Homo sapiens: one gene and its partners. The main gene of each other region encodes a partner of the protein of the gene in region 2 in a complex. Each region holds a gene or a part of one and is shown on either strand. Other genes may lie near its edges. A codon is read from its position in the direction of its gene.

Region 1 (7,583 bases), on a different chromosome or scaffold from region 2:
AATAGAATTATTTCTAATATATCAAAATAAGTAAAAATAAAAATATAAAGCAATGGCGATTAGAAGGCAGCTTGTGTGTGAGTGTGTCTGTATGTAGTTATTCTTTAGTCCTAAGAGCCAAGATAGTTGTTTTGTTGACATTGGGCTTGTGCTGCTGTTACGTGGGCCTGAGTCCCCTAGAAGGAGAGGCAGAGGAATTTTAAATCAGAGTGGGTATGACTAGGCTCCTGACTCTGCAAACTCATGTCTAGTTGAGGTGACAAAACTACAGTTTAAGGCAGGTTGTAATCACAGCTAATATGGCACTTTGACTGTGTTATCTCTGTACCTCACAAAAACCCTGTATGGTGGGTGTTCTTATTTGCATTTCATAGGTGAGGAAATCAAGACTCAGAGATGAAATCATCTGTCTAGATCATAGATAGCAAGTGGCAAAGCTGGAAATGGGATCCAGTCTCTGATCTTTCTCACACCAGGGCCTGCCCTTTTTCTATGTGGTGTTGCTTCTCTAAGTACCAATAATATAGTTCCAAGTTTTTTAAGAGAGGGAGAAGCAAGTGGGGTTTGAAGGATCAGGAAATATATAGTACCTGAGCTGGTCATTTAAAACGGGTATGATTTTGATCAATAGTATGGCAGAGATGGCACTCAGGGCAGGAGAGCAAAGTCAGAGAAATTTGCATACCTCCTTTGGGTGATGTTGAGGAGAGCTCAGGCTGATAGTTTCCATTTTGACTTCTTTGTGCTATTTCTGCAGGGAGGTCCTGGCCAGTGAAGCCATCCTTAATGTTCCTGATAAGTCTGACTGGAGGCAGTGTCAGATCAGCAAGGAAGACGAGGAGACCCTGGCTCGCCGCTTCCGGAAAGACTTTGAGCCCTATGACTTTACTCTGGATGACTAAAACAAAGGGAAGAACTTTTTATGAACTCCACAGGAAGTAGTAAAGCTTTTTTTTTTTTTTAATTAAAAGAATTTTTTTTGAGACAAAGTCTCGCTCTGTCACCCAAGCAGGATTGCAGTGGCATAACTGTGGCTCACTGTAGCCTCAACCTCCTGGGCTCTAGAGTTCCTCCCACCTCAGCCTCATGAGTAGCTGGGACCACAGGCGCATGCTACCATGCCTGGCAAACTTTTTTGATTTTTTATAGAGACAGGAGGGTCTCCCTGTGTTGCCCAGGCTGGTCTGTAATGCCTAGGCTCAAGGGATCCTCTGCCTTGGCTTCTTAACCTGCTGGGATTACAAGCATGAGACACCATTCCTGGCCTAGAAGCCTATTTTTAAAGAAACTACAATCTCCCATGGGGACTGTTTCCCTGCCTCTTTTGTGCAGTCCCATGGAACTTGCCTACAGCAAGAGGCCTAAGATTGAATCTTTTTGGGGAAAAGTCATTCTAGGATGAAAATCCTATGTTAAGGCCGGGCGCAGTGGCTCACGCCTGTAATCCCAGTACTTTGGGAAGCCGAGGCAGGTGGATCACCTGAGGTGAGGAGTTTGAGACCAGCCTGGCCAACATGGTGAAACCCCGTCTTTACTAAAGCTACAAAAATTAGCTGGGCGTGGTGCCAGGCACTTGTAATCCCAGCTACTCAGGAGGCTGAGGCAGGAGAATTGCTTGAGCCTGGGAGGTGGAGGTTGCAGTGAGCCAAGATCGCTCCATTGCACTCCAGCCTGGGTGACAGTGAAACTCCATCTCAAAAATAAAAGAATAAAAGTATGTCTGTCATCCAGCTCCTATGTCTGTTATCCAGCTCCAAGTACAGCTTGTGTATATCAACATTTTCAAAAACCTTTAAACTACCAAATGAAATCCAGATGTTTTTCCATGGTTGAGAAGTGTCTTGTGTTCATGTTGCCTGTGACCGTTGAAATGAAGTAGTATGTGTAATAGCAGGGGCTAGAGCTTTAGGCCCAGCTGTTACTCCAAAATCACACAGGGCAGTTTCTCCCTGAACAACCCAAAGTGGAAAAGGGATCCAAGGCTTTTGCTATTTTTCTCTTAAGCATTCATCTTATTCATAGATAAGAGCCCATTTAGTCCTTCGGATATTTAACTCCTATGTGCCAGGCATTTTTCTAAGCTCCAGGACCATAGTCATGTCCCAATATGGTCCCTGTTGTCCCAGAGATTACAGTTTAATGGGGAATAGAAGGGACAGATTTAAGAAAAAAAAGATAATTCTCCTTTGGATATTGTTTTAGGTGCTTGATATATCTAATATGTGTCTGTTGTGCTGCTGGGCAGTTCTAAACTCATCAGTACCTGGGTTGGTTACAGGGCTTTGGGGATCATCAGGGTATAGGCCATAGGTGAAATTAAGATAGGGTAAATACAGTCCTGAGCTGAAGATGATTACCTGAGAAATATCAGTATTTAAGGAGTGCTTGAAAATAGTGATCTAACATTTACATAGAGAAGGAGCAAAGAGAATGCTACATATTAGGCGCAAAAAGAAAAATATTTTTACCTTTATATTGGGCACTTATGGTCCAGACACTGTTTCATTTAATCTTCACAAAATCTCTGTGAGGTAGGTATTACCTCTATTTTACTCATGAAAAAAAAACTGAGACTCGGAAAATTGAAGATTGTGGAGCCTGGGGTCAACAGGCTTAGGCTTTTTAAAAAACAGGCCAGGTGGCTCATGCCTGTGATTGCAGCACTTTGGGAGGCTGAGGCAGGCAGATGACCTGAGATCAGGAGTTTGAGACCAGCCTAGCCAACACGGTGAAACCCCGTCTCTACTAAAAATGCAAAAAATTAGCTGGGCGTGGTTGCATGCGCCTGTAATGCCAGCTACTCGGGAGGCTGAGGCAGTAGAATTGCTTGAACCCTGGAGGTGGAGGTTGCAGTGAGCTGAGATCACACCATTGCACTCCAGCCTGGGTGACAAGAGTGAAACTCCATCTCAAACAATAACAACAACAACAACAAAAAACAACTCAAATTACTCATGGCCCTGGGAATGGGGGCATTTAAAAAGTTAACCAAGGGAACCAACCTGGTTTCCACAAAGATGGCCACTTCTGGGTCAGCCCAATCATCAGTATCCCTGGGTCCTCAGCATCCCTTCCTACCTCTTTTGACTGGGAATTACGAGATTACAGCCCCACCTACGGAAATTGAGCACATTAGCACTGGCCATGCTGTACATACAGCAAATGAGAGGGCTTCATACTGTTACAACAATCTGTACCACAATTCTCTGTGCGGTCTGCCCAGCTCTAAATGACATGTCCTCAGAGGCATCATCATCTCCAAGTCCATGGAAACCATGCACTTACAGAAACCAGAACCTCCCATACCACATGTTACTAATGACCTACAACATCGACTTCGTCTGTATCATGCAGTGCTCAACATTCTGGTTGCAGCATCACATTTATCAATAATTTGATTCCATGCTGATTCCTTTACTTGGAGTATTGAGATCCCCCAGGTACAGTGAAGGTATGACCCTCTTAAATGGAAGACCAGGAGTTGTTTCCCCTATGCTATGGCAATCCGCCACCCGGAAGCACTTGCTGCACCAACAGCATTCCCAAAGCTTGCCTCTGCAGCCCTGTAGCACCCATTAGAAACACTTCTCACAATGAACTACTGTGCTGGCAAACCCATAACTGGACTGCCGGACAGCAAGCTCTGTGAGGCATCTAGGAAAAAAGCTCGCGAAATCCCGAGAAACACTCTTCACTCCGGAATAGCGTCACATTCTTGAGTCATTTGGGATGACAGGGGATATCCTGGAGCAGGTGTATTGGGAAGTCAGTGAACAAGAAGGCTAATTCATTAGTGGGCCTGCTAGCGTAGTATTTTAACGATTTCGCAGCCTTTAAATCATTGGTGGTCTTTAGCGTGCCGGATCAGCTGGTGGTGGAGTTGGAGGATAGATGGCAGGGATCTGAAGAAAGGTGAAGTGTAGATAGGAGTAGAGACAATATGAAGTTTAGAAAAGACTAATTGCTGGACGCGGTGGCTCATGTCTATAATCCCAGCACTCTGGGATGCCAAGGTGGGAGGACTACTTGAGACCAGGAGTTCGGGACCAGCCTGGGCAACGTAGCAAGACCATGTCTCTACAAAAAATAAAAAATTAGCCAAGCGAGGTGGTGCGCGCCTGCAATCCCAGCTACTCGGGAGGTGAGAAGATCGCTTAATTCCGGGAGGTCGAGGCTGCAGTGAGCCGTGATCGTGCCATTGCACTCCAGCCTGGGCAACGGAGCGAGACCCCATCTTAATTAAAAAGAAAAAAATACAGGAGAGACTGGGCTGCTTTGAAAAGTGGATTTGACGGGAATGTGGGGTTTGGAGAGATCTTATGTTTTCCAAGACTAGAAAAACATTGTGGTTCCGTTCAGCCCTCCCGGAAAATACGTAGGGGACTTAAAGAGCGGACCGAGTACCTGTTTGTTTCCCCATCCCTTAGCCGGCAGGGCTCTGGCAGCGCCCTGGGAGAACTTAGGGAAGGGCCTTCTCGCAGCGGTTACCGGAAGTGACGCATTCATTCTCGCGAGAACAAAGACGCGCGAGCATCGGCGGCCCGGAACCGGCCTTGGAACAACTGTGGAACCTGAGGCCGCTTGCCCTCCCGCCCCATGGAGCGGCCCCCGGGGCTGCGGCCGGGCGCGGGCGGGCCCTGGGAGATGCGGGAGCGGCTGGGCACCGGCGGCTTCGGGAACGTCTGTCTGTACCAGCATCGGGTGAGGCGGGGCGTGAGAGGGAGCGGCGGTGGGTTGGAGCGGCGGTGGGTTTGAGCGTCTGTGGAACACAGGGCTGACAGTGTGGGATAGATGGTTGGTGGGACCTTGGGCAGTATTTGGGGGCCAGTGGGCTTGTGTGTGTGTATTAGAGAGAAAGATACTATGCCTGTGTGTCCAAAGTTGTATTTGAGGTACTGGGCATAGATAGAGCTGTTGCGGGGAACTTGGGTATGACTGTCAGGCTGTGACCAGGTGTTTAGTGAGTGTGACAGTGCGTGTGTGTCTCTGTGAATGTGGAGTGTCAGGGTGTGTGAGGCAGATGCACGTCACAGTGTGTATGTAGGAGCACGAATGTGTGAGAAGAGGGCTGAAGGGGACTGCCTTTGGGAATGTGTGCGTCCGTGTGTGTGTGTGTGTGTGTGTGTGTGTGTGTGCGCGCGCGCGCGCGCGCTTGGAGGCCATATGATATCAGTGGGGACTGGAGTAGACAAGGAAGGCTTCATGATGGGTCCAGAGTTAAGCCTTTGGAAGCATGGATGGGCTTTGGAATTGGGGATGTATTCCAGGTCGGGACAGTATGAGGGTGAGTTGGTGCAGAGCATGGCTTCAAACGAAAGGCTATATTAGTAGATGGAGATGGGGGGCGCTCTAGTAGGTGGAGGACAGTTAACATCAGACTCAAGAATTTTACTTTGATTTAATAGAGAATGTTTAACCATTGTAGTAGCAGTTAAAAAATCATATTTGGGTCTTGTTTGTTTGTTTTTGTTTTTGAGACGGAGTCTCACTCTGTCGCCCAGGCTGGAATGCAGGGCGCGATCTCGGCTCACTGCAGCCTCCTCCTCCCGAGTTCAAGCGATTCTCCTGCCACAGCCTCCTGAGTAGCTGGGATTACAGGCGCCCGCCACCGTGCCTGGCTAATTTTTTTGTATTTTTAGTAGAGACGGGGTTTCACCATGTTGGCCAGGCTGGTCTCGAACTCCTGACCTCAGGCGATCCACCTGTCTCAGGCTCCCAAAGTGCAGAGATTATAGGCGTGAGCCACGGCACCAGGCCTGGGACATGTATTTTTTGATATACCGATAAAAGCTGTGAACCCTTTCCCCAGAAAAATGCACAGATGCACATTCACACAACCATGCATTGCCATTTGAGAGGTTCGTGCCTTCCTAAAGGACATTTTAGGTAAATAGACCCTGGACTAATAATTCCTGTAATATAGGCTTTGTTTTGTTGCCTGTAAAGTAAGTATAGTATAATAATTACATGCATCATGGATTTGAGAGTTAAATAAAATAGTAATGTGTGTAAAGCTAAATACGGTACCTGACCCATGAAAGCCCTCAACTGTTAGCACCTGCTGCTACTTTGTTGTTGTTGCTGCTATGATCATAATGCTCCTCATTAATTGGCCTTAAGGAAATGTCAAGATAAAAAGTGTTGTTCTAGGAAAATGGTTTTGTAAAGGATAAATTTGAGTGGAACAACATATGGGACAAGATGAACAGGTAAGATCTTACTAAAATGCCTGGGCTTGGCTTGTGAATAGAGAAGTTAATTCAAGAGGAAAAGTAATAATTTGTTATCTAAAGGAACATGGGTGTAGTGAGAAAGCTCGTAATTTGGGGTGGGAGAAAGGGGAGATAGGAGTCTACCTTGGGAAAATAGGCATATTTAGGGTAATTAGAATGACAACTGAAACTGTTAGAACTGAGGAAGTTTTGTGAACCAGGTTTCTAGATAGGGCATAGGAGAAAATCTTGGAGAAAGAGAATGGAAGGTGAAGGACTAAGGCATTAAGTCCTGTGATAGCAGGATAAGTAGTAAATTTAATAATTCTCACCATCAGAGGGAACATAACACACTAAAAAAAAAAAAAAGTGGGAGCCAAGTGCTTCCAGTGGCATGTTGCCTGTGTTACCTAAGCCTGCCTATCCGCCTGGTCATAAGGAAAAAGGATGCATGCTGGCAGCTTTTGTGACTTCTTTTCTTGGTCCCTGGGTGGGGATGGATGAATTAATCACTTTTTGTTTTATTATGGTAAAGTATACATAACACAACATTTATCACTTTATTTTTAAGTGTACAGTTAGGTGGCATTAAGTACATTGACGTTGTTGTACAGCCATAACCCTATCTCCAGAATATTCCGACTTTTTTGTTGTTGTTGTACATCTATAAACTTCCCATAGAATATTCTTTGTGAAAAGGTAGAATTTCACAGAGTTGATGAAATATAAATTAAGGAGTTGAAGGATCTTACAAAGTGGGATTTTTGAAATAGATAACTTATTGCTCCATTAACATGAGCATTCAGGGCTCAGTGTTGTTCATGGTTGTGCCTGATTCTCATTTCCATGGTGGTAAAGGCCTGCATGGGACATAGATATAACTGGTCACCTGCTCATAACAAAAGGAAGATTGAAGGGAGTGAGAACTGTGGGTAGGCTAGCATGCAGTCTATCCTAGTTTCCTTCTTCTCTATGCACCAGGTATCATCTTATCTCTAGCTTCTTTTTTCCTCTCACCCTCCAATTCACACTACCCTATCCAAGCTATGTCTTGCTTCCCCACCTATAATATATTTTTTCTGTCCTGGCCCCTGGGCTCTTCTCTCTGTATTCATACACAGCCTTTATTACAACTCTGGTTTGTGTCAGAGATTACATATGTTGGAAATTCTTTTGAACTCTCCTTGTGATATCAGAAACATAGTGTAGCCTGTTTAGCCCTGACTGCTATTTCTGAGCTGCATTATTAATGTTGCCAGAATATGATGGGGTCTGGCTATTTCCTGTAATATGCATCAGAATGGGTTTAATTTCAGTCAGAATTGGCTAAATTACTAGTCACAGGCAAGAGATGTTAGGTTCATTATGTAG
Region 2 (8,051 bases):
ACCTTGGCTGAAAAAGAGGTTGTAAACTCAGAGCTTATAGGCTCTGTTTAGCCAATAGATGCAGAAATGCATTGTGTTTAGTTTTCATAATGTTTTTATGTTTGTTTGAGGCAAGGTCTCACTCTTTTGCTGAGGCTGGAGCTCAGTGACACAGTCATGGCCCACTGTAGCCTCAACGTCCCAGGTTCGAGCAATCCTCCCACCTCAGTCTCCCAAGTAGGTGCGACTACAGGTGTATGCCACCACACCTGGTTAATTTTTTTATTTTTATTTTTATAGCGATGGGGTCTCACTATGTTGCCCAGGCTGGTCTCAAACTCCTAAACGCAAGTGATCCTCCTGCCTCACCCTCTCAAAGTGTTGGGATTGCAGGCATGAGCCACGGAGCTGGGCCAATTTTTTTTATTTCTTTAACAATAGAAGGTCACTACTGAACTGAAGGTGCTACATGCCAAAAGTTGTCTGAGCTAAGTATGAGGGAAGTACACACCCTGACCTAAGCTGTTGGAGATCCCACTCCTTTCAGACTCAAATGGTCTGTTTCACTCATCTGTGAAATCTGCCTGCTCCCTATGCGTAAGTATTTTGAGTTTGAGATCCTTTAAAGCTTTGATCTCCATTAAATTGCAGAATTTGTAGCAAAGGAAACACATTAAGGATTTGACGGTCTTATTTTCACTTCACTACAAATGAAGGTTCTGACAGCTGTTTTTCCTTTTTTTTTTTTTTAATTGAGACAGAGTCTCTCTCTGCTGCCCAGGCAGGAGTGCAATGGCACGATCTCAGCTCACTGCAACCTTCACCTCCCAGGGTCAAGTGATTCTCCTGCCTCAGCCTCCCGAGTAGCTGGGATTACAGGCATGTGCCATCACGCCTGGCTAATTTTTGTATTTTGAGTAGAGATGGGGTTTCACCATGTTGGCCGGGCTGGTCTTGAACTCCTGACCTCAGGTGATCAGCTCGCCTCAGCCTCCCAAAGTGCTGGGATTATAGGTCGGAGCCACCGCCCCCAGCCTTGTTTTTCTATGGGAAAAGATCCATAGCTTGGGGGCTCCCTGTTCTGAAGAGGATGCAGACAGTTGCTACCACGATAGCAAGAAAGAAGACAACCTGAGACTGAAAGCAGAATATTTAGAATTTCACAGTGGGGCTGCCAGTTGGGAGTGCACCTGCCTTGCTCTTCAGGAACTCTGTCATGGCTCGTCTTTCTTCCAGCCTAGCTGCACTGAGCAATAGGTAGCCTGATTCCAGAGTTGAATTTGCTGTAGCCAAAACAATTTAGTTTTAATTGGCCAGGCCAGTTGACACAGGCCACCCTGCCCTGAGGATTTTGGACCACCTGGCTGAACTTGTAGACTCTCTCCATGGCACTTCAGGCAATAGGTTTTGTCCATACTGTGCTTGTTCCATGCAGGAGGAGTGCCTGAAGTGCCTGCAGCCAAACCAGGCCCTGGCGATGCTCCTTTTCCCATGGGGGTGCTCCTGGAGCATCACTGGCCGTCCTGTCATTTCCTACGGCTGCGTCCTGGGCCAAAATACAAAGCAGCTTTGAGGTGTAACTTATTATTTTGCCTTATGCATTAAAAAGGCCAAATAACATTAAAAATCAGTTATCTAAAGTATTTTGTTTTGTTTTGTTTTGTTTTTTGAGACAGAGTCTCACCCTGTTGCCCAGGCTGGCGTGCAATGGCGCGATCTCGGCTCACTGCAACCTCTGCCTCCTCGGTTCAAGTGATTCTCCTGCCTCAGCCTCCTAAGCAGCATCTGCACCACCACACCCGACTAATTTTTTGTATCTTTAGTAGAGACGGGGTTTCATCATGTTGGCCAGGCTGGTCTCGAACTCCTGACCTCATGATCCACCTGCCTCAGCCTCCCAAAGTGCTGAGATTATAGGCGTGAGCCACTGCGCACAGCCTACAGTTTTAACATTTTTTTTAACGGTTATGTTAGCTAGAATGTTTGACAATGAGGAGGAGAAAAATCTGAGTGCTGAAGGGTCCATAAAGGTCTTTCTTTTTCTTTTTTTTCTTTTTGAGACAGGGTCTCAGTCTGTTGCTCAAGCTGGAGTGCAGTTGTGCCATCATGGCTCACTACAAACTCCACCTCCCAGGCTCAAGCAATTCTCCCACTTCTGCCTCTGGAGTAGCTGGGACTACAGGCACCTGCCACCACACTCTGCTAATTATATTTTTTGTAGAGACAAGAGTTTAGCCTTGTTGCCCAGGCTGGTCTCCAACTCCTGGGTGGCAAGCAATCCTCCTGCCTCAGCAACCCAAAGTGCTGAAATTACAGCAGTGAGCCACAACTCCTGGCCCATAAAGGTCTTTCTAAATCAAAACCAGACCCTCTTGTTGTCTTCTGCCCAGTCTGCTCATGGTTCTAATTTCCAAGTGTATATTCTTTTTCACCCACGTTGTAATGTTTGTTGACTTAAACCATATAGCGCTATAGATGATGGGGAGAAAACCTGTTGGATCACATTATTCAAAACTGTTTCCCAGAGTCGCAGGAAAACAATAGGTACCTCCTTGGAAATCTCCACTGTAGGGACAAGTCATCAAGGCTCAGCACCTCCCAATTTTTGCAAAAGGCACTATGACAAATCAAGGAACGCCTGTGCCTTACTCTTACCACTAGGTGTCACACAAAACAATCAGGAATAAACACCAAGATCCTGAAGGCTACCAGAAATATAAAACCATAGAAGGTGGTGCAAAAAAACCTTATTCCTCAGATATTTTTATTTTTTATAACCATTTTTATACCTGAAGCCAAATATCTTCTTCTGATGTATCCTCTATAATTGGGACATTTAGAGTTTGATGTTTCTGTACTTGTTTAAAAGAAGTGACTATCCCCAGATGGGGGTCAGGGGACACCCACCCTTTATTTTCCCTAACAGTTGGAGTAGAAAATACTTTTGAGTACATTCCAAATTATAGTGTAGTCAGTCTGATTTTCACAGCGTGTTTTCAAAAGTGTTAATACTAAGACTGCTTTGGCCAAATGATTAATATACTGCCAAGGGGTTCCTGGGTAAATTTCTATGCATTTCAGTTTCTTTTTAGGGAAGTAGGAACAATATCTATCTTACAAGATTAGTTCTGAGAACAATGTGGTACATAAGGCGCTGGAATTCTTTCAAAAATTTATACCCTGACATTTCCAAGAGCCATGGTCACCCTTACAAAGGAGAGTTAGGCATGCATTTGTAGACAAGCAATATGACTTTTAAGCTAGAAAAGACCTTAAGTAACATTCAATCTAATCTTATTATAAAAGTTAAGTATACCACAAAAAAGTTAACTGACCTCTCCAACTAATGTGCAGTCAAGTAAAGATAGAACCTGGAATTGAGATGTCCCATTGCAGTCACTGTTTCACCTTGCCTCAATCATTGTAGATTTGCATATCATAAACCTGCAGAGACAATGGTGTCTATCCCTGGGAAGTTTTCATTGTAACATGTGATCATTATTACCCTGGAGGGTCTATCTGATTTTAATTTTTTTCCCTTCATACTTGGTCTCTCTCTATCGAGTCAGATTTCTTTCATTCTAATATTAGGGGAGGGGTGGAGATACGAAGAGAGGGGAAGGATTGGTTAGTACAAGGCCAGTCAAGGTAAAGATGATTGCAATAATCACCAGAAATCTCTGCAGAACTACAGAGGCCTCCTGGGACTAATTCTGAAGAGCTCTGACCGAAGTTTGCTTTATTTTGCCTGTACCAATTCTACCAAGTAGATGAATTCAGTCCATGGCTTGCAGGCTTGGAGGTGGAGGTGGAGTGGAGAGCATAAATTATATTTCTGCAGGTGAAACCAGAGCATAGTGAGCCGAAACCCCTTTCTACCCAGGTGGCGTGAATGGGTCCAACTGCTACTGTCCCCCAGGACAAGAGAGCAAGGAGGGGCGGGCAGGATGGGACTACCTTGAGCCTCCCGCAGGATGCCTGGCAACTACTTTCTTAGTGGTCCTTAAGGTCCAATCGCGGTTAAGGCACTAACTAAACTCATTCTTCAGCCTCCTTCTCTAAGTTCTCCTCGAATTTGGGTGCCCAGAAGTAGGCTCACGATCCTTTTTCTGCGGGAGCACAATGTAGGTCAGATAGCATAAACGAATAGCTACTTATGAACACAATAGCTACTCTGCTATTGCAAGGTATCCACAACCACCACTACAAACATTAACACCTTGCTTTACTTGGGAAACAAAAAAAATCATGGTCCTATTCAGCAGTTTCCCCATACAGGGAGCGTTTGCCCCTCCCCCAGTCAACAGGGCTGTTCATCCCTAGGAAGTGATTTGAGAGTTCTCCAAGGATTTAGGCTTTTCACTCCTCCAAAGCTTTCACAACTTCTACCTGGCGGGGGTGCGTGGGGGGGTGGGGGCGAAGCTAAAAGTTCCTTTGCTGCAAAGAGCCTGGTATAGGCAGAAACACCGGCGCGGCCTGCAGCCCCCTAACCACAGTGCGTCCTTCCCCTTAGAAGTCTGGGGAAAGCAAATCCCTACGCCCAGCCATCATTTCCACTCTTGCGTTTTCAAAAGATCAAAAAACGGAAAGGACCGGCAGGTTGGCAAACCCCAAAGAGGGACCGCCCATCAGGTCGGCGTCCTTGGGATCTCAGCAGCCGACGACCCCAATTCAAATCGATCGTGGGAAACCCCAGGGAAAGAAGGCTCACTTGCAGAGGGACAGGATTACAGGGTGCAGGCTGCAGGGAAGTACCGGGGGGAGGGGGCCTGGTCGGAAGGACTTTCCAGCCACTCGGCGCTCATCAAAAAGTTCCCTGTCCGTGACCCTAGTGGCTCATCGCAGGGAGTTTCTCCGATGAACCCCAGCTCAGGGTTTAGGCTTCTTTTTCCCCCTAGCAGAGGACGAAGCCAGTTCTCTTTTTCTGGTCTGACTGGCTTGGAAATTCCCCGAGCCTGACCCCGCCCCAGAGAAATCCCCAGCCAGCGTTTATAGGGCGCCGCGGCGGCGCTGCAGAGCCCACAGCAGTCCGTGCCGCCGTCCCGCCCGCCAGCGCCCCAGCGAGGAAGCAGCGCGCAGCCCGCGGCCCAGCGCACCCGCAGCAGCGCCCGCAGCTCGTCCGCGCCATGTTCCAGGCGGCCGAGCGCCCCCAGGAGTGGGCCATGGAGGGCCCCCGCGACGGGCTGAAGAAGGAGCGGCTACTGGACGACCGCCACGACAGCGGCCTGGACTCCATGAAAGACGAGGAGTACGAGCAGATGGTCAAGGAGCTGCAGGAGATCCGCCTCGAGCCGCAGGAGGTGCCGCGCGGCTCGGAGCCCTGGAAGCAGCAGCTCACCGAGGACGGGGACTCGTAAGTGGCGGAGGCCCGGGGCTGGGGGTCGTCGGGAGGGCGGGACGCGCGCGGCCTGGGGGTGGGAGGCGCCGGGCCTGGAGCCCGAGCCGGGGGACCAGCGATGCAGCCGGGCGGGCGCCGCGGCACCCCGGGGCTCCTGCACCGCCCCGAACGCTGCAGGGCTGCAGGGCCGCGCGGGGCACCGGCCCAACTCGGAGGGGCGGCGGCTGGGCCCTGGTGGATGGCAGCGTCGCCACACGCCCCCTCCCCCCAGACCCGTCCTCTAGGCCGGGGGCGGGGCGGCAGCGGGGACGCGAAGTCCCCGGTTGCATAAGGCGGGGCGGGAGTTTCTGGCCGCTGGCGGGCGCCGAGCAGCCGGGAGGGGAAGTACAGGGCGTTCCGAGCTGGCGGGAGGGCGGGGCGGTCTGGCCGGCGCCCGCCGGGGCCGCGGGGGGAGGGGGGCGGAAAGTCCCTGGGCGCCTGCCAGGAACACTCAGCTCATAATAACCTCGCGGAAAACACCGCGGCCTCGGCCTCCAGAAACCCCGGCCTTGCGCAATCCCCCGCAGCCCGCGCCTCCCTGGGCCCCACGCGGTGCACTCACCACCCCTGGGGTTTTTCCCTCTCTTCCCCACAGGTTCCTGCACTTGGCCATCATCCATGAAGAAAAGGCACTGACCATGGAAGTGATCCGCCAGGTGAAGGGAGACCTGGCCTTCCTCAACTTCCAGAACAACCTGCAGCAGGTGCGCCGCTTGCCTGGCCCGGGTTCTCTCTGACCCTGGGACGTAGCTGATGTAGCAGAGTCACCCCAGATCCTTTCTGAATTCAGGGCCACTGAGCACTATTTACCCTCACCTTTTACTTCACATCAGCCCACATCCTAGAGAGTGAAGGAAATTCCACTGATTTGGTGAGGTCTTTATGACCCACCTGGAGCCTCTGCTATTTGCCAGCCCTCCCCACCCCCCTGTCTAGGAGGAGCAGCACCCAACCAGGAGACACGGGTTGAGGGGAACTCGGGGTGTGGGTTTGGTCCATGGCTTACTTTCTCTGGTCTCTCTTGCATTCGTAGACTCCACTCCACTTGGCTGTGATCACCAACCAGCCAGAAATTGCTGAGGCACTTCTGGGAGCTGGCTGTGATCCTGAGCTCCGAGACTTTCGAGGAAATACCCCCCTACACCTTGCCTGTGAGCAGGGCTGCCTGGCCAGCGTGGGAGTCCTGACTCAGTCCTGCACCACCCCGCACCTCCACTCCATCCTGAAGGCTACCAACTACAATGGTATGTCTGCCTCCCTGCCCTGCCCCACCCCCTCGGAGGGCAGGTGACGTGGAGAAGGGGCAGGTGGGCCAACTTAAGGAGTCCAGGCAAGAGCTTAAACTCCTAACATTTGGAAGGTTGAGAAAATATGTGTGCAAAGTGCCTATTGGATGCCTTTATAAAGTTCTTTCAGAACCCAGACTGTGGGTTCTTAAAATTCAGAAGATAAGACTACTTGTTCCATAAAAGAATAGGTGAAAGGAGTGAGGGTTGAAACAGGTGGTTATACTTTTTTCCTTTTGTTCTTCCAGGCCACACGTGTCTACACTTAGCCTCTATCCATGGCTACCTGGGCATCGTGGAGCTTTTGGTGTCCTTGGGTGCTGATGTCAATGCTCAGGTTGGTGCTTCCTGCCCCCGACGCACTGAGTCAGGCTCCTCGTGCTTATGTTGTGAGCAGAAATTCCAAATGCAGCCATAAGCATCTCAAATTCCTTTTGGTTTCAGGAGCCCTGTAATGGCCGGACTGCCCTTCACCTCGCAGTGGACCTGCAAAATCCTGACCTGGTGTCACTCCTGTTGAAGTGTGGGGCTGATGTCAACAGAGTTACCTACCAGGGCTATTCTCCCTACCAGCTCACCTGGGGCCGCCCAAGCACCCGGATACAGCAGCAGCTGGGCCAGCTGACACTAGAAAACCTTCAGATGCTGCCAGAGAGTGAGGATGAGGAGAGCTATGACACAGAGTCAGAGTTCACGGAGTTCACAGAGGACGAGGTGAGTCTGTGAACTCCTTCGGCGCTCTAACTAATGAGGTGCCATTCCCTTCACCCTCCCAGGCCCCTAGAGCTGCTCCTTATCAGAGGGGTATCTACATAATGAGTCTCTCAAATTTCTGTGCATAACCAGTATCCCAAGAATGTACCTGCCCCCCCTCTTTTTTTAAAGAGAAGCATTAAAGGCAAACTCTCTCAGCCTGTAAAGTTCATTATATTTGGGCTATGGAGAATGGAGTCCAAGAGTTATTTCCAGTAGTGGCCTCCCCATCCCGGTAGCTTGGCAGAGCTCCGCTCCGGAAGCTTAACGTGTCTTTTTTCCCCTTGTTTTCAGCTGCCCTATGATGACTGTGTGTTTGGAGGCCAGCGTCTGACGTTATGAGCGCAAAGGGGCTGAAAGAACATGGACTTGTATATTTGTACAAAAAAAAAGTTTTATTTTTCTAAAAAAAGAAAAAAGAAGAAAAAATTTAAAGGGTGTACTTATATCCACACTGCACACTGCCTGGCCCAAAACGTCTTATTGTGGTAGGATCAGCCCTCATTTTGTTGCTTTTGTGAACTTTTTGTAGGGGACGAGAAAGATCATTGAAATTCTGAGAAAACTTCTTTTAAACCTCACCTTTGTGGGGTTTTTGGAGAAGGTTATCAAAAATTTCATGGAAGGACCACATTTTATATTTATTGTGCTTCGAG
Region 3 (7,104 bases), on a different chromosome or scaffold from region 2:
GTCCACAGATTGATCAGAAATCACATTAACAGGAATGGATGTCTATGCAAAATTTCTCATTAATTTTCTTACTTTTAGTAGGAAGTTTGTTTTATTCGGTTGGTCTGTTGGTTTTCTGTTTACAAGGTGAATTGTCTACAGTAGTGGGATTGTTATATTAGAAGAGAAGGAGAAGGAAAAATAGAAGTTAGTGCTAGAGGATATGTTAAGATGTTCTGCTCCTACATCTACATTTGTGTCTAATCAGCATTAATTGATGACTACGTCTTGGTAAACAGTAGACCATACTGGAGCAATTTACTCTGCTTTTTGGGAATTAGTTCTCATTTGCACTCTTGCACCTCCCATAAATACTGAACTCACTTGTAGTGTTCTTAGAGGTCAGCAATAAACCATCAAGAGCATATGATCTCTCTTTGAATTTTGTCACTACTTTGGAGACAGACAGTTTGGAAGAACTGAAGGTACTCAGCCTCAGGGAGAAAGGTTTGAACGTTTTGGCATAGTCCTGCAAGTCAGTTTGGCTCCTTGACTGTGAATTTTTTTAATCAAAAAAGATTAATATTTGAAACCACATAATTTGGACAGTTAATAGTTCTGGTAACATAACCAAGCCTTTTATCTTTGTAGTATTTCATTAATTAGTATCCAGTGCCTCACTTTTAGAAGAAAAAAAGAGAAAAAAGTAGTAACATTCTTTTAATGATGATGAAATTGCTTCATACCTTTGGTCTCTGCTGTATTAGGGGTTGTTCCTGGGTGCAAATTAATATACTGTCTTTTACATTTCCGGAGGTTGTTGACCTGGCCTTGAAGATCAGCCAACAGTTTAGAAAATAAGTTGTGCAAATTGCATTGCTACACCTCAAATAATTTAAAGCCTGACAGTTCTGTACAGAATAAGAGTCACATAAGATGTGATTTGTTAAAGATTATAGAAATCTCAGAAGATAGATTATGGATGAAAATATTTGTTTAATTTAGAGTACTAATAATAAAAATAGTGCATTTTACATTTTAAAAAGAAAACAATTTTTATTGTGTCATATTTTCTGTAGTAACAAACAGAATTAATTATCAGTAATACAAATTTCATCTGCTTTAATTTATTGCCTGTTTTTGAAATTAGAATAATGATATATTTGGTTTAATTATCCATTACAAATTGCCTTATTATTTTTCATTCATCTTTCACCATTAATCCAGAAACCTTAAAATAGCTTTTATTTTGACCCATGCCTTCAGTAGATATCAACAGACTTGAGTTCATCTATGGATCCTATTAGTTTAAACTGTGACAAATTTTGACTGCTTAAGCTTTAGAAAAGAATTTATTCTTTAAAATAGCCAAAATTATAAAAAATGAAATAAAGAAAAAGCTGTTTGAGAGAATCAAATACTCTAGTTTAACTAAAAATAAATAATATCTAATCAATACTGACGAAAGAAATATCTGATGCTTAGCATTGTACTTGTTGGTACATAGTAAGCAATCATTAACTGTTAAATGAATGAATGATATGAAGTTGTTGCAAAATTTTTTTTTAAATGGACAGCCATCTTCTATAAGGAACAAAAATTACATTATTTTGCTTTGCCTTCTGGAAAGAAAGGAGCACAAAATAGTCCTTGTGTCTTAGATATTATGGAAATCTTATCTAAAGACCACTTGAAGTTTACTAGAACAAATAATTTATTAAAAAGTATCTGGCGCCTTCCAAAAGGGGAACATTTCATTCTGAAAGAGGCATTTATGAACTAGAAAAAAAATGCCTTTTAGTTTCAAAGTTTTAGAGGCACCAGAGCAAGATTATAAAGTAATTGGAATGATAAAAGGTGCTTGTAAAATTGAAAAATGTAATTTTTTGGTGAAGTTAGAATTTCTGTACACTCCATTGAAACTGTAATATCAAATACTAATACCTCCAAAAAAGAAACAATGCTACAAGCACTGCTTGGTAATCTAAGAATTGTTAACACTTATCTAAATTAATCAACCAAAAAGTTAAAACAAAATATGTTATTTTGTTATGTTACCTCTAGAATTAAACACCTATCACCCATAAATCTGTGACTGTTAAAAGTTACTAGATGGCAAACCTCAGGAACAAGCAGGCAGTTAGCAGGGTTTACTGTACTTTCCACTTTCATACTTTAATGATTTTTCCAACACTATAGAAGCTGGGGCCTCATCCTAGCACAGTTTGTTCATTATTTTTCAGTTGTAGCATTTTTTAAAAGTTGGCCTTGAATTTCTGAATTGAACCATTTATTTTTTTGTGGACACAGTTTTTTAAATGAAATATACCATTTAGACTAGAAAAGAGCAAAATGCCAATACTCCCTGTCCTAGTGTCATTGTGCCCCCTGGGAACCCTAATGCAGTCCTGTGGGAAAACAACCATTTTATTGAGCGCTGCTCACTTCAGTTCATTCTGCTTTGCTGCCACTTAGTTCTGGTTCTGACCCTGATCTCCCCTCACATCACTCACAACAAACATTCAAGTTTAAAAATTAAGTTAAAAGTTAGTTACATATATATGTAACTAATGTGTATATTAAATATACTGATATATATTAGTTACATATACAGATATGGCAACAACAAAAAAGGTTATATATATACATATTTGTAACTAATATGTATATTAAATATAATGATATATGTATAAATACATATTTGTAACTAATATAATTATATTTAATATATATTAGTTACAAATATGTATATATAATATTTTTTGTTGTTGCCAGCAAAATGAGAAAGAAATTAAATGTTAACATCTATAACAATTGCACTGTAAAGCCGTCATTGTTGAAAAGTACTCCGAAGATTAATAGCGGCAGTGTTTGTTAAAATAATAAAATAATCCAGGCACTCTGCCTGTGACTTCCCCATGAGATGGCTTCCAGAAAAAGATAAATTTTTGTGTGTTCCCTTACGAGTTCAGTCTGCAGCTTCTGGGCATGAAGAGAAGCATAAACAAAACAAACAAGGCTCTAACTTTGTTATAATCCTTACGCTACTAGTAGAAATGTATGGACAATTCATGCATTTCATATTGGAAAATAAAGCTATTAGATTTTTCTTTGAGATGAACCTTTTTTTTGTAATTTATTTTTTATTTTTTATTTTTTTTCAGTAGAGATGGGATTTTGCTCTGTTGGCCAGGCTGGTCTCAAACTCCTGACCTCAAGTGATCCACCCGCCTCAGCCTCCCAAAGTGCCGGGATTACAGGCGTGAGCCACCTAGCTTGGCCAAGGTGAACCTTTTTGATAAATGAGGCTCACTAATATTTCTAGGATTTACTTTTCACTAACTTGAACTAAAGAAAGTATAAGACCTGCATAAAGTTGAGCATACCTCTATAATGTCCCATTTTAAAAAGCAATTTGTTTTTAATGACTTTTATTTGTTAAAAGCAGTTATTTCAAAAAATTATTTTTATTATTTATCATGTCATTTGGACTGAAAATACTATACCATATTTCAGTGTTAGGGCACACCTATCCCTCTTTATCCCAGACGTCAATTCTACCATATAACAAGTATGTAAAAAAGAAAACATAAAAGTGATGACAGACTCCCTAATCAACCTATTTATTGGTTCTAAGCCCAAGCCTGCAGTTCATTTAAATAGTGAAAATAGATTACTTAATTGTCTTAGAAAATATGTCTTCCATGACAAGAATTTTAGGAATGAGAAAATAACTATTTTTGGATGTTTTAACACAAATTCCCAAATCATGTTTTATTGATATTTGAAGAACCTCTTTGTCTACCAGTTCTTAAGTATAGGCTTATTTTGTAAGGCTTAAACATGTATTGGTGTTTGACTGTTAAGACTTGATCTATAACCTTCAGTGTCTTTTTCTTTTAAATGGGGTATGGACTTGGTAATGAGGCCAGAGGAGAATACCTTACAATTTATAGCATCTGCATATAATACAAGAACCTTCATGATTTATAAAATTAAAATGATGATGATGTGGAATGATGGAAGAAGCATGTGTGGGTGGCTATTTATGTAGAGGAAATTAGAAGTTGAAAGCAATGTTAAGAATTAAAATTAAATTACACTTAATTTTTTGCTCAGTTGGATAGTCAGGAAAGTACTTAAATCAGCAATTGATTTACGTAAAATCAAAACTGAAAACTGAATATACAATCTAGGAAATAGGAAAAAAATTTTTAGTGTGTTCATACTGCTAATTTCAAACCAAGCAAAAAACCTGGGGAACTACTTTTCAGAGGAGATGGCTTAAAATGAACCAAAAATATAGCCATTTCTCTACCCTATTCATTTAATGCATTCATTTATTATACTGCTAATACATGATAAGGTGAATAGGTTAAGCATCGTTTGTATATGTGTATGTGATTTTAAACCTGAGTCTTTTGAAAGATTGGTCAAAGCAAAGGATAATGAAAGCATAAAGATTTAGGGGGAAGAGTCCTCTATAAAACTAAGACTTAAACTTTGTTATCAACTTGAATGTGAAGATAGAATAATCTAGAAAGTGAATGAGAATTATAAATAAAAGGACAAATCATATATCTCATGGTTGAGAAATACAATGAGATAAATTGTATATCTCATCTCATGGAGGGTCATAATGAAAGAAGTAAGAGAGATTGCCCTTGGATAGAACCTTTCGGCAGACATTTCATAATGGATTATCATATTTTTGCTAAACTGGTAAGAATGGACTTTTCACCACATTATGAAAAAACACTTTAGAAGTCAGTTGCGATCAAGCAAATATAAGTACCTGGGAAATTAAAATCAAAAGCACAGCAGTCCAACAATAGTCAAATGCATTTACTCACTCTCATACCATATCATAGCGTTAATTTGAGATAATGTCTTTATGGTGTCTCTTTATATATTTACTCGATTTCCCATTTAAGACATTTAACCAAATTTAAAAAGCAATCCTTAGAAACTTTAAAAATATTTCCTATTTTAAACCATTACATAATCATTTACCCTGCAGTTACAATTCTTTTTTTGTGATGGGTGGGGAAGTATCCCATTTCTCTTAGAAAGTCTTCTGTAATAGCCAAATAGGAGTCAATCCAAGTTGCTTAGAGAGGTAGTTCAATCCTGTGTTGAAATAGATGACTTTTGGAGTAATTGTGCTATATTTACTGAGTATCTGTTGAACTGTAGGAGTCCAGTCATTCAAGGCAAGCTACAGAAATGATTTTATTGCTGAGGCACTTAAGTATCTTCACATCTATATGCCAATATTAAATTTCTCATCATCCTTGATCCCCACCCCTTTGCACAGATTGGTATCCCCAGCACATTAGGGAATGCGGTTGTTAGCCTGTTAGGGTCCATTCAGTAGATTTCTCATGCCAGAAATCTAGAAGCCCTTCTTATACATTCAGCTTTCTTCTTCAGTCAGTCACCAAGTTCTATCAAGGCAGCCTCCTCATCTCCAGAATCCATCCCTTCCTCGTTGAATTTCTAGATTTTATTTTTGCATTGTCTCCTGCTTCTAACCCATCGTTCATTTCGCATAATGGTCAGCTTTCTAAAGTGTAAATCGGATCATGTCTCTGCAGTGAATCCCAGTTGTCTTCACAAGCTGATTCTCGCACACCTCACCCCCTTACTCCCTCCGGTGTTCCCCAACCATCCCCTAATCTCAAATCCTCCACACCGACTTTCAGTTTCCTATCCACAGTTTCTGACTTTGAATGCCTTTGCTTATGCCCTCCCTGTATGAGAAGTGCCTTTTCTTTCCTAGCCATCCTGCTAACTTCTAAACCCTTAGGCCTGGTTTGAGCATCACCATTTCTCTCACTTGCCTTTCTGTTTTCTCCCTCCCCTTTCCATAAAGAGTTATGTGCCCCCATTCTGTGTTCTCCTGAATTCCTGTGGGTCCTAGAAAAGAAACATCTTGAGGGCAAGGAGTTCATCTTATTTACTTTTTATTTGCACAGCACCTGGTGTGTTTGCTGAATAAGTAAATACCGAACAAGATATCAAGAGACAGTGCTGCCAATTAACTGTGTGGCTCTGAGCAAGTTAATTAACTTCTCTGAGTCTTATTTTTGTTCTGTAAAAAAAATGAGGTTTGACAAAATGAGCATCTCTCTCTAAAATTATGTGTTTCTTTGATGTAATTGTATTAATTGGAAGACTTCAGATTTTCTTGCCATATCAAGATAGGTCAACTTAAGAAAAATGCATGTGAGTAAGTACCAAGCCAATTCTTGATTATCAGTATGATAATATGAGGAACTGCCCATTTTGTCGATAATAAGTTATAATTTTTGGTCTCAGTGTAGGTTCTTTCTCAAATCCAGATGTTTCTGGTGTTGCATTTTTTCATTATTATTCAGTCTCTCGCATTCATATTTCTCCAAAGAAATTTATGGAAAACTTGAGACAAAAATTGAATGTAAAGTTTAATATTTAAATGCTAGATTGATTCAAGGTCTCACTAATTATAACTATATTTGGAGGGAGAAGAAGGGGAGGTGGTGGTAGTATGAGCTGAATCCTCCTCTGTTCCTTCCTAGAAGGAACACAACGTCCTACATCAAGAAAAAAGACAGAAGCATATCTTGGAGATATGAAAAGAACCACCAGGTAAACTAAAAAGAAAAAGAGTGTTAAAAAGTCAGCCTTTAAAAAGCAGGATTGGAGATGAGGAGGGGTGGAGTAGGGGAAGCATTGCTTGTTTATAGAAGCTCTTCCATCTTCGTATAGTGTGATTTTTATTTTTTTATTATTTTTTCCTTCCTTTTTTTTGACCTCCAGCTTTAGTATAGTACAGTTGACAGAAATTATATATGTTTATGGTACACAAGATGATGTTTTGATATACATATGCATTGTGAAATGATTAAATCAAGCTGATTAACATAAGTAGGGTTTTATTTCTTTAACAGTGATTTATTTGAATATATGTTGAGTCCTTTCTATGTGCCAGACACAGTTCTAAGGACAAGGCACACAGTGCCAAACAAGACAGAAATCCAGAAATTCATGGAGCTTAAATCATGTAGTCTTTTCAGTTTTTAAAATTTTCTTGCTGGGCGTAGTGGCTCATATCTGTAATCCCAGTACTTCAGGAGGCCGAGA

Evidence for each region.
Region 1: NFKBIA (region 2) and CHUK share a complex: the UniProt entries of both Homo sapiens proteins name them as parts of the 70-90 kDa complex.
Region 3: the proteins of NFKBIA (region 2) and NFKB1 are in contact, whole or in part, in a crystal structure (PDB 1NFI), measured with the Homo sapiens proteins. Residues at the interface, in NP_065390.1 of Homo sapiens: Asn108 (codon at 6,046), Asn109 (codon at 6,049), Leu110 (codon at 6,052), Gln111 (codon at 6,055), Arg140 (codon at 6,471), Tyr181 (codon at 6,594), Pro214 (codon at 7,090), Cys215 (codon at 7,093), Asn216 (codon at 7,096), Arg218 (codon at 7,102), Tyr248 (codon at 7,192), Gln249 (codon at 7,195); in NP_001158884.1 of Homo sapiens: Lys251, Ile252, Val253, Arg254, Met255, Asp256, Arg257, Thr258, Ala259, Pro326, Lys345, Leu348, Tyr350, Ile353.

The regions. Positions count from the first base shown.
Region 1 is NC_000010.11:100,226,546-100,234,128, reverse strand, and holds the start of CHUK (inhibitor of nuclear factor kappa-B kinase subunit alpha), read left to right. Parts: upstream 1-4,532; 5' UTR 4,533-4,596; coding exon 4,597-4,701; intron 4,702-7,583. Other genes in the region: CWF19L1 (CWF19-like protein 1), read left to right, coding at 758-902.
Region 2 is NC_000014.9:35,401,699-35,409,749, reverse strand, and holds the start of NFKBIA (NF-kappa-B inhibitor alpha), read left to right. Parts: upstream 1-5,000; 5' UTR 5,001-5,105; coding exon 5,106-5,332; intron 5,333-5,951; coding exon 5,952-6,060; intron 6,061-6,389; coding exon 6,390-6,600; intron 6,601-6,890; coding exon 6,891-6,979; intron 6,980-7,086; coding exon 7,087-7,356; intron 7,357-7,689; coding exon 7,690-7,737; 3' UTR 7,738-8,051. UniProt on the Homo sapiens protein: Inhibits the activity of dimeric NF-kappa-B/REL complexes by trapping REL (RELA/p65 and NFKB1/p50) dimers in the cytoplasm by masking their nuclear localization signals.
Region 3 is NC_000004.12:102,504,341-102,511,444, forward strand, and holds part of NFKB1 (nuclear factor NF-kappa-B p105 subunit), read left to right. Parts: intron 1-6,539; exon of another isoform or gene 6,540-6,592; coding exon of another isoform or gene 6,593-6,609; intron 6,610-7,104.